Regions from separate parts of the Homo sapiens genome. Here region 1 is linked to region 2. Evidence: fine-mapped expression QTL. Tissue or cell type: Th17 cells. Region 2 holds a variant in brackets; the other region holds the start of a gene. All regions are shown on one strand. Distances are between the middles of the regions.

Region 1 (8,000 bases), 770 kb after region 2:
CTAGAGACCTTTGTTCATGTGTTTATCGGCTGTCCTTCTCTCCACTATTATCCTATGACCCTGCCACATCCCCCTCTCTGAGAAACACCCAAGAATGATCAATAAATACTAAAACAAACAAACAAAAAAAACTTCATTTCATGAAGATGAAGGAAGGGCTGGCTGCCCTGAGGCAAAGGTGTGCGCAGGAGAGTGGCTTCTTTTTATTTTATTTAATTTATTTTTTGAGACAGAGGTTTTGCTCTTGTTGCTCAGGCTGAAGTGCAATGGCGTGATCTTGGCTCACTGCAACCTCTGCCTCCTGGGTTTAAGCGATTCTCCTGTCTCACCCTCCTGAGTAGCTGGGATTACAGACACGTGCCAACACGCCCAGCTGATTTTTGTATTTTTAGTAGAGACGGGGTTTCACCATGTTGGCCAGGTTAGTCTTGAACTCCTGACCTCAGGTGATCCGTCCTCCTCAGCCTCCTAAAGTGCTGGGATTACAGGCATGAACCACCACATCCAGTCTCTTGAACAAAATCAGGATTCTGTTAGAAAAGAGAAGGTAATATGGCCATTGGGCAGGGAGCTAGGAGTGTTTGGTATTAATACCCTCCATCTCACCCACTCTCTCTCAGTAAATGACATACCATTCAACTCAACCAGTTCTTGTAGCCAGAAACCTGGGACTCATCCTCAGATCTCCACCTCTCTCCTCTTCCACACTATTCAATCAATAATTCCATTGATTCTACCTTGAACACAGCTCTGTAATCAGCCTTCTCTTTTGCCGCCCAAGTTCAGGAAACCACCATCACCTTTCATCTGGGGCCCTGCAGTGGACTGCATTGGTCTCCCTGCCTCTAGTCTTACTAAACCTCAATCCAAGTTCTAAGCTGCTGATAGTACCTTTTCTTAATGCAATTCTGATCATGTTATTTTCCCATTAAAAACCCTTCTTAAGTTTCCCATTGCTCTTAGGAGAAAGTTCAATCCTCATATCGTGCCTTCCAAGGCTTTCTAGCTTTTGGCCCTGACTATTTCTCTAGTCTCACCGCTTTCTTTTTTTTTTTTTTTTTTTTTTGAGACGGAGTCTTGCTTTGTTGCCAGGCTGGAGTGCAGTGGTGTGATCTCAGCTCACTGCAACCTCTGCCTTCTGGGTTCAAGAGATTCTCCTGCCTCAGCCTCCTGAGTAGCTGGGATTACAGGTGCGTGCCACCACATCCAGCTTATTTTTGTATATTTTTAAATAGAGACGGGTTTCACCATGTTGGTCAGGCTGGTCTCGAACTCCTGAGCTCGTGATCCGCCGGCCTTGGCCTCCCAAAGTGTTGGGATTACAGGCATGAGCCACCGCGCCCGGCCTAGTCTCACCTAACCGTTTTCTGGCTTTTGCCTTGTCCCCTTTGCCTTATTAATTCCATGTCATCATTCAGATTGCAGGTTACAGGTCACTTCCTTGAAGAGGTTTTCTGCTCCCATAATGTAATGCCCTGTACTTCCTATATCATTCTACTCACCCAAATTTATTATAATTATTTGTTGAAGTCTGTCTTTCTTCTAGACTATAAGTTCTGACTATAAGGCCTAGTAGGGCTACATCCCTACCCACCTATCACAGAGCATGACCACAGTAAGTGTTAAATAAGAGTTAGTTATAGATTTGAAAGTTTTCATGTTATAGGACCTCTAGGTGGTAGCTGACGCCAGAGATATACATGAGATAATCTAGACAAAGAGTATTGCTCTAGAGAGAGAGAGAGAACATGAGAAATAAGAAAGACAATGATGATTAAGATGATGAAATGAAGGCTGAGAAGGAGAATGAGAAATGAGTAGCAAAGAAGTAGGAATGGGCCGGGCGTGGTGGCTCATGCCTGTAATCCCAGCACTTTGGGAGGCCGAGGCAGGCAGATCACGAGGTCAGGGCTTCGAGACCAGTTTGGCCAACATGGTGAAACCCGGTCTCTACTAAAGGTACAAAAAATTAGCTGGGCGTGGTGGCAGGCGCCTGTAATCCCAGCTACTCTGGAGGCTGAGGCGGGAGAATTGCTTGAACCCGAGAGGCGGAGGTTGCAGTGAGCCGAGATCGCACCACCGCACTCCAGCCTGGGCGACAGAGCGAGACCCCATCTCAAAAAAAAAAAAAAAAGAAGTAGGAAGAACACGAGAAGAGAATGTAGTCGTGGCCTGGCACCGTGTCTCACGCCTGTAATCCCAACACTCTGGGAGGCTGAGGTGGGCAGATCATTTGAGGCCAGGAGTTCGAGGCTAGCCTGGCCAACATGATGAAAACACATCTCTACTAAAAATACTAAAATTAGCCAGGCATGGTGGTGCATGCCTGTGATCCCAGCTACTCAGGAGGCTGAGGTACAAGAATCACTTGAACCTGGGAGGTGGAGGTTGCAGTGAGCCGAAATCACACCACTGTACTCCAGCCTGGGTGACAGAGTGAGACTCTGTCTCAAAAAAGAAAAAAAAAAAAAAGAAGAGAATGTAGTCGCAAGCCAAAGAAGGAAATTAGAGACACCCAACAGGGTCACCCACAGCAAAGGGGACAGGATATGGACTGAAAAGTGCCACTAGATTTGGTCACTGAGTGAGAAAGATAATATTTGAGAAGAGATGGACTCCTTCTTTGTCAAACTAATGTACTTAAGAAGGTATTTTCCACCTTTACATTAATTCCTCTACCTATCCGTCCAGCAAAGATTCACTAAACATCTACTCTAGGCTGTGTACTGTGCTAGGCCCTAGGGAGACATGGTAGACCAAGGTCCTTTTGGGCCTATGGGCTCACTACACTTGCCTGCAAAGGAAAGTTACAATTCACCAGGGCTGGGTGTTTTACCAGACCTGATAATGACTGGCTCTCTGAATACATTCGATGAAACAAGAGCCAGTGTGCAAGTCTGGAGGTCAGTGAGACTTTATTATCTTGCTCTGAGCTGGCAGGAGGCAAAGGGAAAGTGTATGTAGAACATTATTATTGCATCACTGCTGTCTTCTTAAGTCAGTCACAGATGAGAGTCTGGGTTTTTCCAAGAAAATTGGTTCCATCTGCTCAAAGGCAGAAAAGTGATAGAGCAGTTCAATCAAAAGAGCATCCCCTTAAAATATTCTTTGAACTTGATCCTACTTTTTTTTCTGAAACAGAGTCTCGCTCTGTCACCCAGGCTGGAATGCACTGGCGTGATCTCAACTCACCGCAACCTCCGCCTCTCGGGATCAAGTGTTCTCCTGCCTCAGTCTCCCGAGTAGCTGGGATTACAGGCGCGTGCAACCACGCCCAGCTAATTTTTGTATTTTTACTAGGGACAGGGTTTCACTGTGTTGGCCAGGCTGGTTTCCAACTCCTGACGTCGGGTAATCCGCCCACCTCGGCCTCCCAAAGTGCTGGGATTGAAGGCGTAAGTCACCGCGCCTGGCCTTGACCCTAATTATTGACTAAACTATTGCTTCGCTAATTTTTTTTCCTGCCCTTCTGTTTTAACAGCAGTAAAACAGTGTGGTGAAATGTTCAAAAAATCAGTGAATCACAGCCTTCTGAAAATTAATGGGTGTCAGTGAGGTTTGGGAGTTGGATGGAGACAAAGGGAGCGACACCATAACTAACTGGAGATCTTACTAGGTTTTCATTTAATATTCATTTTTTACAATAGACATTGTTTGGAAAAAAGGGTTTAATTCAAAATGTCATTAAGGCACATTATCTTTAATGTTCTAGAAAAAGTTATTTAAAGAAATCCTGGCCATGAAATTAAAATAAATAAATAAATAAAACCAGGCATTCTTTGAAATGTGAATAATAATTTGCTAATTTATATTTAGGATTGTGGATATACTTTTTTTCTTTTACATGTATTCCTGGGGAGGTAAGTGATGCAAATATTTTCCCACTGCCTCAATCAGACTTTAGTTTTTGGGGTCTGGCCTGATATGATGGAATATAAACAGGAAATCAAGATCAGAAGAGCCTGTCCCTGAGAACACTCCTTCACGGGACTCTAGCTCACGCCTGGACCTTCCCAGTGCTTCCATCTGAAGCCCCTGGAGACCCAGGTGGGTTAAGTAGGGTGGCAGGGGGGATGGAGGGGGCGGGGGGCGCGGGGGCGTAAATCCTCCCCCACTGGGGAGGGTGACAGTAACAACTTCCAGATTGTTTACAAAGATACAGGCTCTGCTTCAGGCATTTGACGTGTATTAACTCGGGTAATCATCCCAGTAACTCATGAAATAGTTATATTATTATCTTCACTTCCCAGATAAGCAACGGAGTGAGAGAGATTATAGAAAGTGGAGAAGCGAGTACCTTACTAGTAGCCACTAGGGGTGTCAGTAATATGGCTCAACTTTGTTACGACGGATCAGAAAAATGCTCACCTTTAAGACCGCAAGCAGAGCCTGTCTGGGGAAGCAGGTGACTTATCAACGCCTTTTGAGATAAGGAATAGGACTGCGGGGAGGAGTGTGTGAGAATCAAAGGTGAGTTCCCTGTGTGCGTGGTCGGCGGTCAACTCCTAGCTAGTCCAAGCTTAGAGCCTGCGCATTTGCCCTCCCGGGTCAGAGCCCAAAGCCGAAGGAACAGAACCAGCGCCGGCGGCAGCCACGTGGCCCAGCCTCTGAGCCCTAGCTGCCATCGCGGAGGCTGGGCCCGAGGGGCGGGGCTGGGGAGTGCGGACACCCGGGCCTGGCGGAGTGCGCCTGCGCACGGGGTTGGCCCGGCGGGGGTGGGAACACTAGCAGAGCCGCGTTAAAGGCGCTCCCCGCCCCGCCCGCCGGTCCAGTGCTCGCAGTGCGCAGGCGTGGGGCTCTCTCCTTGTCAGTCGGCGCCGCGTGCGGGCTGGTGGCTCTGTGGCAGCGGCGGCGGCAGGACTCCGGCACTATGAGCGGCTTCAGCACCGAGGAGCGCGCCGCGCCCTTCTCCCTGGAGTACCGAGTCTTCCTCAGTGAGTGTCTGCGGCCCGTGGCCCCTCCGCGCCCGTCCGCCCATTCATTCCCGGGCCTTGCCTCCCCGGGAGGGTGCGGCCCGCGCTCGGCCCCAGGTCTCCGACGCGGGCCCGTCTCCTCGGGCGCGTTGTGGGGCCTGGCCGGCCTCACATTGCATACTTGCCGCCGCCGGTCGGGGCGGCGAGGGTCGCCTCCGGCCATCCCTCCCCGCTGAACGGAGATGGTCCCTTTGTCACGCCTCGGGGTACCCGAACCTGGGCCCAGCTAGTTTTGCAGGTGTCTGGCTCTGACAGGGTCTGTTGGGAAAAGGAAATCACCGACCCACCCTAGAAAGGTGCTTGGAAGTAACATAATTCCCGTAAGAGGATTGCTCAGTTTGGAGAAAAGGCGACTCCGGGCCGGGGGGGGCAGTGACTTCCTAAAGACCTTAATTCCGCCGCCGTAGCTCAGATTATCGGCGCTGAGCGGAGCCAAGTCCACCCCCTCGTTTTACAGACGGGAAAACTGAGGCCCGGATCGGGAGCCGTCTGTGAAGGCGCTGGACCGGTCCTCCGCGGCCCGGTCGTGCTCCTGCCTCTGCGCCGCCTGTTTTCCCTCAGCGCCGATGCTGGGAATGCTCCTTATGAAACAGAAAGCTGTTTCCCTCAAATCAAACAGATGACGTCAGTCTGGAAACAAGACTGAGAAAGTGCCAAGTTTTTACCTTTGCAGGATTCGGCGTCTAGGGGGTACCTACCCCGGGTCCTGCACCTAGGGCTGCACGGGGAAACCGGGAGGCTGCATGCTGGCGCCCTCCACGCTCCTTAGGGCACCACGTTTTTTTGGCCTTGTAGGTGGAGGAAAGCTACTTGGGGTTTTTCTTTATCCTCTTACTCCCCCCACCCCCAGCTACTAGGAGTAGATTATGGGCGATAACGGAGGCGTTCGTAAATGTGTCACCACAGGCGCTTCTATTGTAACCTCTTTACAGTTTTATTTGGAAGGAAATGGGCAGGTGCCTCGAACTCTGAGTTGGTGTATGAAGGAAGGGGAAGCGGGGAGTAGAGGAGACGAATGAATAGGCATTGAAGGAACAAAAAGTAGCCTGGTGCGGGAGGAAAAGGAAAGCGAACTGTAAAGCTTACACATCTAGCCAAAGGTTAACTATCAGGTAAAATCCAGGAAGGGTGAGAACTACCCCCCACTCTCCATTTTATTTAATTTTGCAATTAAGCAGCAAGGACAGTCCAGTAACTTTTGACTAATAATTCATGGGACTGTTTTTCTGGAAATAGTGTTGGCTCCAGAATTTCTCTGTAGGAAAGGCTTACAGAGGTGACTGTCTGGTTTGAAGGTGAGGGGTGGATCTTCAAGCTATATATGCAGAACAAACACACTGCTTTTACTTAGGTTATTTATTTGCAATTAATATTTGGTGGCCGTTATGGGAGACCAAAGCTACTCCTAGAATTTGGCACTAGCTGAAGTAACTGTTTTTATCAAGTGGAACTCTCTGGAACTTAAGAAATACTAATAATTAGAACCCACTACATAGTTATCCAATTTTAAGTGCTTTATCCTTCCTTAATAGAAATAAACTTTTTTAAGCTTTATAATATTACATTTGTCAATTTCTTTAAAACTGATAAAGGGCTGGACAGACTGCAAAGTCACAATTGGCCCTAAAGGGACTTTTATGTTTTATTGTTTGTTTTTTGAAACAAAGTCTCGCTCTGTTGCCCAGGCTGGAGTGCAGTGGCATGATCTTGGCTCATTGCAACTTCAGCCTCCCGGGTTCAAGTGATTCTCCTGCCTCAGCCTCCCAAGTAGCTGGGATTACAGGCACTTGCCACCATGCCTGACTAATTTTTGTATTTTTAGTAGAGACGGGGTTTCACCATGTTGGCCAGGCTGGTCTTGAACTCCTTACCTCCAGTGATCCACCTGCTTTGGCCTTCCAAAGTGCTGGGATTACAGGCGTGAGCCACCGTGCCTGGCCTCCACTTTGATTTTTAAACTTGAAGGGATGCGATGTGGACAGTAGGTTTCCTAAAGAATACTGAAGAAGTTTTAAAATTACTTTTTGGCTATAGTTAGGCCTCTAGAATATATTAGTAATATATATCTAGAATATAATAGAAATTATTTGTGAAGATGTTTGTTGCAACTTGATTATCCTTAAAGAAAGTCATAATCTAAGATGGCTGGCTGTCTCTGGGAACACCACTTTTAGCAACATTGTTTAGTAAAGTGGTCCCCTCCCTTCCTCCCAAGTACTTCATAATGGTTCTGTAAACTTAACTGATGTAAGATCAGTCCAAAACAATTTAATCGCCTTTTGTGTCCTCAGTAGTCTCTGCTCTCACTATAGAGATTAGTACTTATTAGATGCCTACAGAGTGCATAGGATGTAAACCCAGCCTAGCCTGGGAGTACAGTCAGGAGAAGTGAAGTATACAAACAGTTTTTCTAGTGTAAGAATAATATCTTGGTTTAAAAATGTGTACTGGTCGGGTGCAGGGTGCGGTGGCTCACCCCTGTAATTCCAGCCCTTTGGGAGGCTGAGGTGGGCAGACTGCTTTGAGCTCAGGAGTTGGAGACCAGCCTGGGGAACATGGCAACACCACCTCCCTACAAAAGACACAAAAATTAGCCAGACGTAGTGGCTCATGCCTGTAGTTCCAGCGGCTCAGGAGGCTGAGGCTGGAGGATCACTTGAGCCTTCAAGAGGGAAACAGAAGTGGCAGTGAGCCAAGATCACACCATTGCACACCATCCTGGGTGACAGAGTAAGGGACCTTATCTCAGAAAAAAAAAATGTGTACTGTGGGCATTTAGCAATACAATTAATTATAGTAATAACTTTTTCTAATTTATTTTGCAGAAAATGAGAAAGGACAATATATATCTCCATTTCATGATATTCCAATTTATGCAGATAAGGTAAGGCATCCTTGTTTTTGGACACAGTCTCTTTACTCAGATCAGCTAGTTCTACATATGAATTTTCTTATATGTCTCTCAACAAGTGCTTAAAATGCCTCGTTGTGCTGTGAGCTAAAGGTCTGTTGATTAGGCTGGGCGTG
Region 2 (8,259 bases):
GAGCACAGGGCTGTCAAGAGGGTAAGGCCCCAGCCACAGCCACGGGCCCAGGATGGGCATGAAGGTGCACACAAAGGCAGGGCTGTGGGGATGCCAGTCAGCCTCCACCTGGGACCCTAGGATCTCCTGGGACTGGCCAAACAGGGGGGCCACACAGGGATGGGCTTGGGAGAGGGCAGCTAAGACCAATGGGTGAGTAGAGGCAGAGCCAGTGGGCAGAGGATCTGGGCTCTCAGCTCACAGAGGAGAGAGGAGGCGCCATCTGCCTCCCAGCTTTAAGCTTTTCTCCTTAGGGAGAGTGAGCACAAAGAGAAACCTCTCCTTTCTTCTCAGGTCTCTCATCTTGACCCTTTCCAGGTCAGGTGGGGACAGCCCGGAGTTTTGAGAGGTGGATGAACACTGGTCTGGCTGTGACAGGTGCTCCATCTGGGGCTGCTGGGGAAGGGGCAAGGCTGCCCTCCCCAAGGTAGGTTCCCTGCAGGACGGCCACCTTGCTGCCGGCAGAGCAGGAGCCTGCCTGGCTGAGAACTACCCTACTCCTGATACATGGTCCCCCTCGTCTTGTCTGTCTTTCAGACCCAAATACACGCAGACCTGGCAACAGTGAGAAACAGGACTGGCTTTCTCCTCATGGGGCCATGAAAGGGGCAGGTCTGGCTCCAGGTCACAGAGCAAGACAGTGGCAGAGGCAGGACCAGGGGATGGCCAGGACCCAGATGCTGCCTGTCCACACAGCATGCGGCAGGGACCTGGAAGGGAGCACCATGGGCTCCGCAGCCAGCTGGGCTTGGGGGCAAATCACAGCTCCTGCTTCCCCAACAGGAGGACACAGGCCAAGCTCCCTGAAGGGCGCTCCTAGAAAACAGTCCTCAGGAAAGTGTGGGAGATCACTAACTAGCACCAGTAAAGTAGTCAGGCCCACGGGGAAAGCCTTTGGAACCATCTGGAGCGATCGGAGTGAGAGAGAGAGATGGGACCACTGTTGTAAGAATAGCAGAAGGAGCCACTCATGTCGGAGAAGCCTCCCCGTGTGGAAACGACCCTTGTGTGGGTAACTCAGGGTCCCTTGGGGGCCCTCTTTCTGGGAAGAGGCTGTATTACCTTCAGTTTTCTGCTGCTGGGTCTCTGTTTCCATGATCTTTGCCATTAGAGAAATTTTACTTTCCATCAGGGACCATCTCATCGTGACCCCCCCACGTGCTAACTTCTCTGAGCCCAGTTTCCTGATGAGGCATGGGGGCCACAGGACACAGGCCTGGAAGCAGTGAGAAGCAGTTTCAAGAGGGAGTGCATCCAGGTGCAGAGATCTGGGACCGAGATCTCTTTCTTTGCCTCCCCCACTTCACCTGGGTACCCCTGTGATGGTTACTATTGAGTGTCAACTTGACTGGATTGAAGGATGCAAAGTATTGTTCCTGGGTGTGTCTGTGAGGGTGTTGCCAAAGGAGATTAACCTTTGAGTCAGTGGACTGGGAAAGGCAGACCCACCCCCAGTCTGGGTGGGCACAATCTAATCAGCTGCCAGAGTGGCCAGAATAAAAGCAGGTAGAAGAACGTGGAAATTCTAGACTGGTTTAGTCTTCCAGCCTACATCTTTCTCCCGTACTGGATGCTTCCTGCCCGCGAACATCAGACTCCAAGTTCTTCAGCTTTGGGACTCTTGGACCTTCGACCACAGACTGAAGGCTGCACTGTTGGCTTCCCTACTTTTGGGGTTTTGGGATTCGGACTGGCTTTCTTGCACCTCAGCTTGCAGATGGCCTATTGTAGGACCTCACCTTGTGATCATGTGAGTCAATACTCCGTAATAAACTCCCCTTCATCTATACATCTATCCTGTTAGCACTGTCCCTTTAGAGAACCCTAACTAATACAACCTACCCATCCTTCAGAAGGTGGCTGAGTCATCACCTCCTCAAGGAAACCTTCCCTGACGTTCCAAGCTAGGGGAGTCCCACATAGTATCTGTCCTCAGAGAATCATGGAATTCTTCCTAGCACTAATCCCAAGGGTAATTTTATATTTATTTGTGTGATCATTTGATTAATGTCTACCTCTCCCCAAAGACTATAATAATCTCCACAAGGGTAGGGTCACAACCATTTTCATTCGCTCCTGCATATTCAGAGCCTTTATGTAGGGTGTGGAGCACGGAAGCTTGATAAGTATCTGTTGTGTACATGAATGAATGAATGAATGAGTGAATGAATGAATAGCACATGGCCAAGAAGGAGAGGATCACTGAGGGCTTTCTGGACTATGGCAGGACTTTGGGAGTCTGGGCTGGCAAGAGTAAGTTTTATGTTGGGTAGAAAAGAGCTCTCCCTAAAGCAGGGGCCAAACCAGTCCGCTAGGGCTGTGTTTACAGCTAGGGTGGAATTGGTGAGATGGGGAGAGATGCCTTGGGGGTGAATTCAGTTTACCCCCCTACATCCTACTCTCAAGGAAATGCATCTATTCTATTCTCCCTGGTCCCCAGACTCTTCCAGATGTAGGCTGCTAGCCCTGGGCCCATGCCTAAAATTAGTAATCTCCCTGGAGTGGCCATGAAGAGGAACTCCTCCATAGAACCAGTCATCCTGTTCACCGGATTGTTGAGGGCCCTTGTAGAAGGCCCACATTGTTGAAGGCCCTCAACAATGTGAGACTCAAAGATCCACACACTTTGGGCTCATTCCCATTGGCCCATCCATAGGCTTTCTCCAGCCTTCCTTGTATCCAGTCATCCAGTCTTGCTCCCTTCTGTGATCTTGACCAATCAGCTAAGCTATTTGTCACTTACCCAGTCTTCTTAGAAAGGAGCTAAGTGATCATTAATAGAATGTTCATAGAAATATGGATGGTAATGGCCATTCTGATGAAGTCTCAGATAGAAATGAGGAATATGTTATTGGAAACTGGAGGAAAAGTGATCCTTGTTATAAAATGGCAAAGAATTTGGTAGTATTGTGTTCCTGTCCTAGTGCTTTGTGGAAGCTAGAACTTCTGAGCAATGAAACAAGACATTCAGTGGAAGAAATCTCTAAACAAAGTTATTGAGGATGTGGCATGGCTTCTCTTGACTGTGGTAAAAACACAAGAAGATATAAATTAATTAAAGATGCAATTTATAGTCAAAAGGGAAGCAGAACTTAAAGATTTGGAAAATTCTTAGCCTGGCCAGGTTGTAAAGAATGTAAAAGTGTGTTTGAGAGATAACACCAACAGTGTGTGGCCAAGTGAAGGTTGGCCAGATGCTATTCATCAAGACAATGGATGAATAATCCCCAAAATATTTTGGCAGTCTTCAAGACTGCCACTCCCTTTACCAGAATGCCCGGGCATCGGGGGCAGAATGGTTTCAAAGCTCTTCTCCCCAAATTCTTGTACAATGCTCCTTGGTCACCCAGCTGTGGCTCAAGAGAGCTCAGGTGTGGCTTGGGCCAACTATCAGGTAGGCACAGATGAGGAACCATGGTGGCATCAACACAGTGCCAACTCCAGGAGTGTGCAGAGTGAACAAGTTGTGGGGACATGGCTACCTCCACCTAGATTTCAAGGGATGCCCTGGAGAACCTCAGGTCCCAGCCCAAGAACTGCCACAGGGGTGGGGCCACCACAGAGATCCTCCACTAGAGTGATGTCCAGTGGACCCACAGGGGCAGAGCTAGAGCTGCCCCTTAGACTACAGGCCAGTAGAGCCACCAGCAGGTAATTCTACCTTGGGAGAACCACATACATGTGATTCCAACCCATTAGGGCTGCAGTGTGGGCTGTGCTTAGCACAGCCATGGGAGCACGGCCACCCAAAGCCACGTGAGCCAACCCCTACCACAGTTTGTCCAGAAGTAGGACAACAAGTCTAAGACATTATTTGCAGGCTTTAAGATTTAATGTTGTTTTCCCTGTTGGGTTTTGGACTTACTTGGGACCAGTTACCTCTTTCTTCTTACTTCTCTTTTTTGTAATGGACATGTCTATCCTATGCCTGTCCCACTGTTGCATTTTGAAAGCACATAAATTGTTTAATTTCACAGGTTCACAGCTGGAAAGCAATTTGCTTCAGGATGGAGGTACCTTAAGTCTCAGCCATATCTGATTTAGATGATATTTAGATAAGACTCTGGACTTTAGACTTCTGAGCTGATGCTGAAATGAGTTATTGTTTGTGGGGCTACTGGGATGGAATGAATGTATTTTGCCTGTGAGAGGGACGTGAATTTTGGGGGAGCAAGGGAGGAATACTATGGTTTAAACGTTTTTGTCCCCCCGCACACAAAATTCATATGTTGAAACCTACCATCCAAGGTGGTGGTATTAAGAAGGGGGACCTTAGGCCGGGCGCGGTGGCTCACACCTGTAATCCCAGGACTTTGGGAGGCCGAGGCAGAAAGATCACGAGGTCAGGAGATTGAGACAATCCTGGCTAACACAGTGAAACCCTGCCTCTACTAAAAATACAAAAAATTAGCCAGGCGTGGTGGCGGGATCCTGTAATCCCAGCTACTCGGGAGGCTGAGGCAGGAGAATGGCATGAACCCAGGAGTTTGCAGTGAGCCAAGATTGCACCACTGCACTCCAGCCTGGGTGACAGAGCAAGACTCTGTCTCAAAAAAAAAAAAAAAAAAAAAAAAGAAGGGGGACCTTTGAGAGGTGATTAGGTCATGAGGGCTTCCCCACCCCTCATAAATGAAATTAGTGCCCTAATAAAAGCTTGAGGGAGCTCATTTACCCCATCTGCCATATGAGGACACAGCAACAGGCGTCATCTTTGAAGCAGAGACCAAGCCCTTGCCACGACACTGATTCTGTTGGCACACTTGATCTTGGACTTCCCAGCCTCCAGAACTGTGAACGATAACTTTCTCTTGTAAATTACCTAGCCTAAGGTATTTTGTTATAGCAGCCTGAACTAAGACAGGCCCCGAGGGCAATAAACACAGGAAGTATTTATTCATTAGTTTTCATCTCCCATTGGTCAAAGGTTGCCTGTGGGCATTAACTGCCCTCTACACACACACACACACACACACACACACACACA[A/CACACACAA]GAGGCATGTGCACACACACATACAGAGACAGAGGGAGACACAAGAGACATGCACGCACACACCTATGCAGAGACGGAGAGAGACATAAGAGACATGTGCACACACACAGAGACAGAGACACGAGAGACATGTGCAGACACACAGAGACAGAGACAGGAGAGACATGTGCACACACACACAGAGACACAGAGAGGCACGAGAGACATGCGTGCACACACACACAGACACGAGAGATGTGCACACACACAGAGACAGAGGAAGACACAAGAGGCATGTGCACACACACAGAGACATAGGGAGACACAAGAGATATGTACACACACACAGAGACATGAGAGATGTGCACACACACAGAGACAGAGACAGGAGAGACATATTCACACACAGAGATGGAGGGAGACATGAGAGACATGTGCACACACACAGAGACAGAGACAGGAGAGACATATGCACACACACACACAGAGACAGAGGGAGACATGAGAGACATGTGCACACACACAGAGACAGAGACAGGAGAGACATATGCACACACACAGAGACAGAGGGAGACATGAGAGACGTGCACACACACACAGGTGTCTGCACACATATTGACACATTTCCGATTTGCACATGCAGAAGTGCCACCTAGATTCCTGCAGATGTCTCACGTCATGACAAGGGGGCCTCATTCGCACCTGGAGTAAGGTGAGTCACTGTCAGGTTGCACCTGAGGGAGGTCTATCAGTCTGTTTTGTGTTGCTATAAAGGAATACCTGAGGCTGGGTAATTTATTTTAAAAAGGAGTTTATTTGGTTTATGGTTCCGCAGGCTGTACAAGAAGCATGGCACCAGCATCTGCATCTAGTGAGGCCTCAGCGAGTTTTTACTTATGGCAGAGGATGAAGAGGAGATGGCATCACATGGCTAGAGGGGGAGCAAGAGAGAGGAAGGAGGTGCCACATTGCTTTTTTAACAACCAGCTCTCGGGTTAACTAATAGAGCAAGAACTCCTTCATTACCGAGGGGAGGGCACCAAGCCATTCATGTGGGATCCACCCCCATGACCCAAACACCTCCCACTAAACCCACCTCCAACATTTGGGGATCACAGTTCAACGTGAGATTTGGAAGGGCCAAGCCTCCAAACTATATCAGGAGGCTACCAGCCTGTGTAGAGCTGGTCAGCCCAGGAGGGAGAGGTATGGCTGAGTGACCTGAGGTGTCTGATAGCATTACCTGCTTCAAGGTGTGCAGGCAGAACTCAAACTGGATGTTTTCAGTACAGGCAAAGGCTGGGCCCAAAGAGTGAACCCATCCATTCCTGGGTCCACCCATCCCTGTGACCATAATACCTCTGTGCAAAGAGGTCCCATGAGTGGTTTAGGGATGGGGGAGGGTAGCCAGGGTCTGAGCAGAGGGTCTGAGCTGGGCCCTGTGGTAGGCATAGGGGGTGTTTCTGAAGTCCCTGGAGGAGGGACCCCCGTCTGATTTGAAAAATGGTCTCGTTCTCCCTGCCTCACCATAACAAAGGTATCCTGGTCAGGAGACACGAGTGCGGCTTGCACATGTCAACTGTGAGGCTGGGACACTCCCAGAAAAGCTTTCCTGCCTGCCACAGCATCCCTGTCCTGCTGGTGTAATTAACCCTGAGCTAATGGGGCGAGGCCTGCAAGGAAGCAGTGTGCCATACCATAAGGTGGGTCTCAGCACTCCTTCCCGGCCCCTCCACATGCTTTCCCTTTCCTCTGCCCCCTGATTCATGGACGCCTCCCAGCCCCAGCCCCACTGAGAGTTCCTGGGCCAGGAGGAGCAACAGCGAGGATCCCAGGGCATCATGGACGTGGCCCAGAAAGCCCCCTGGACCCCCTTCCTCAAATCCAACAAGAGCCATTGATCAGGAGATTCTTTCTTGTTCTGGCCTAAATGTGCTGGTGGTATTCCTAGCCCAGAACCTAGAGACCCTGCTCCTTGCCCTAGGGGTTTCAGGGTATAGGGAGTCTCATCTCAACATTCCTCTTTCCTGACCCTCCTGGGGAAAGAGGGGCTTTGAGGGTAGAGCACGCTCCTGGGGGACCCCTGATAAAAGCCAGCTCTCCCACCACATGGAGAACCAGCCCCACACTCAGCCACAGAGGCTTTGTGGAGCTTGGGCCTTGGAAGTGGGCAGGCCTGGGTATAAATGCTGCTTCTGAGAGGCCTTGAGCAAGTTGCTACACCTCCTAAGTGTGCATTTTCTCACCTGTGAAATGCGGAAAAACTAGGACTAGCTCACAGGGTTGTCATCAGCACGAGCACTGAGGTGTGAACAGCACTTGGCACATAGTACACTCTCAGTAAATGATGGTTCTTATGACGATGATGCCAGGATGGAGATAGTGGACAGGGGCATCCTGCTGTCCAGAGGATGATGTTCAAGGCTGCAGCTGGGAAGAGAGGAGAGCAAGGGCTCACGTGGACGTCCACAGGACCACCAATGTGGGGCCCAGCTCCCCACAGGGCCTCCCAGACAAGCCCAGGCAGCCAACCCTCCACTGCCTGCCCCATCCTGCCCAACCCCACCACCCACCAATATCAGAAGAGACTGGAATCTAGAAAGGAGGGGAGTGTTTTCCCTCCTGGATGTCAAAGATGGGGAGTAGGACAGCAAGAGCCTTGAATTAAATGGGAGCCTGCAGGATTTAAATAAACAGAACTGGCTTTTAGAGAACGGGAGTAAGACTACTTAATAAACAAGTCAGGAAGCTGTGGTTAATGGAGCTCGATCCTCCAGGGTGGGTGTGTTAACAGGGTATCGACAGTTACTGGGGGGAAAACTAGCCGCTTCATGTTCACATCTCCATGAGCTGGGATGCCTGACTGGACATTGTTATCATCCTTTTCATTCATTAGGCGAACAGTATTATTTGTTGAGTACCTGCTGGTACAACTACCTCCCTTCACCAAGTGCCCTGAGGATGCATAGTCAGGGAACTTAGCTGGGTGCCTCTCAGGTCCCTGTTCCCCTGGGAAGGAGGCTCTGACTCAGTGCCTCAGGGGCACAAGTCAAGCAGGTCACATCCTAAAGCATGGGGAACCAAGGACCTGACAAGAGTGGCCTCCTGCAGTGCTAAAGGCATGAAGCCCACCTGAGTGTGAAGAGGGCAGCAAAGGGCCACAGCCCACAGCCAGCTTGGCAGTAGGAGGTGACATGCCCACAGTCCTGCAGCAGGGTCAGCTGAGTTGGGCTGGTCCCCAGGTCCCCAAGGTTCAT

What was found. PIP is the estimated chance that this variant, and not a neighbour inherited with it, causes the effect.
Region 1: PPA1 starts here. The variant in region 2 is fine-mapped to the expression of PPA1 in Th17 cells (Schmiedel 2018, PIP 0.95).

Annotation. Positions count from the first base shown.
Region 1 is chr10:70,230,198-70,238,197 of GRCh38, reverse strand. PPA1 (inorganic pyrophosphatase 1) reads left to right here and starts at 4,769. Exons shown (of 11, transcript NM_021129.4): 1 at 4,769-4,934; 2 at 7,799-7,857. The coding sequence starts at 4,871. RefSeq lists a silencer at 4,558-5,127.
Region 2 is chr10:70,996,683-71,004,941 of GRCh38, reverse strand. It overlaps LOC105378350 (a long non-coding RNA gene), which reads right to left. Exons shown (of 3, transcript XR_001747493.2): 2 at 7,249-7,432; 3 at 5,797-5,933. It overlaps LOC105378351 (a long non-coding RNA gene), which reads left to right. Exons shown (of 3, transcript XR_946048.4): 2 at 358-466; 3 at 1,172-1,827. Among named protein-coding and RNA genes, the nearest start is that of LINC02622, 62 kb to the right of the region's middle. The variant A/CACACACAA (reference allele first, on the strand shown) is at 5,024.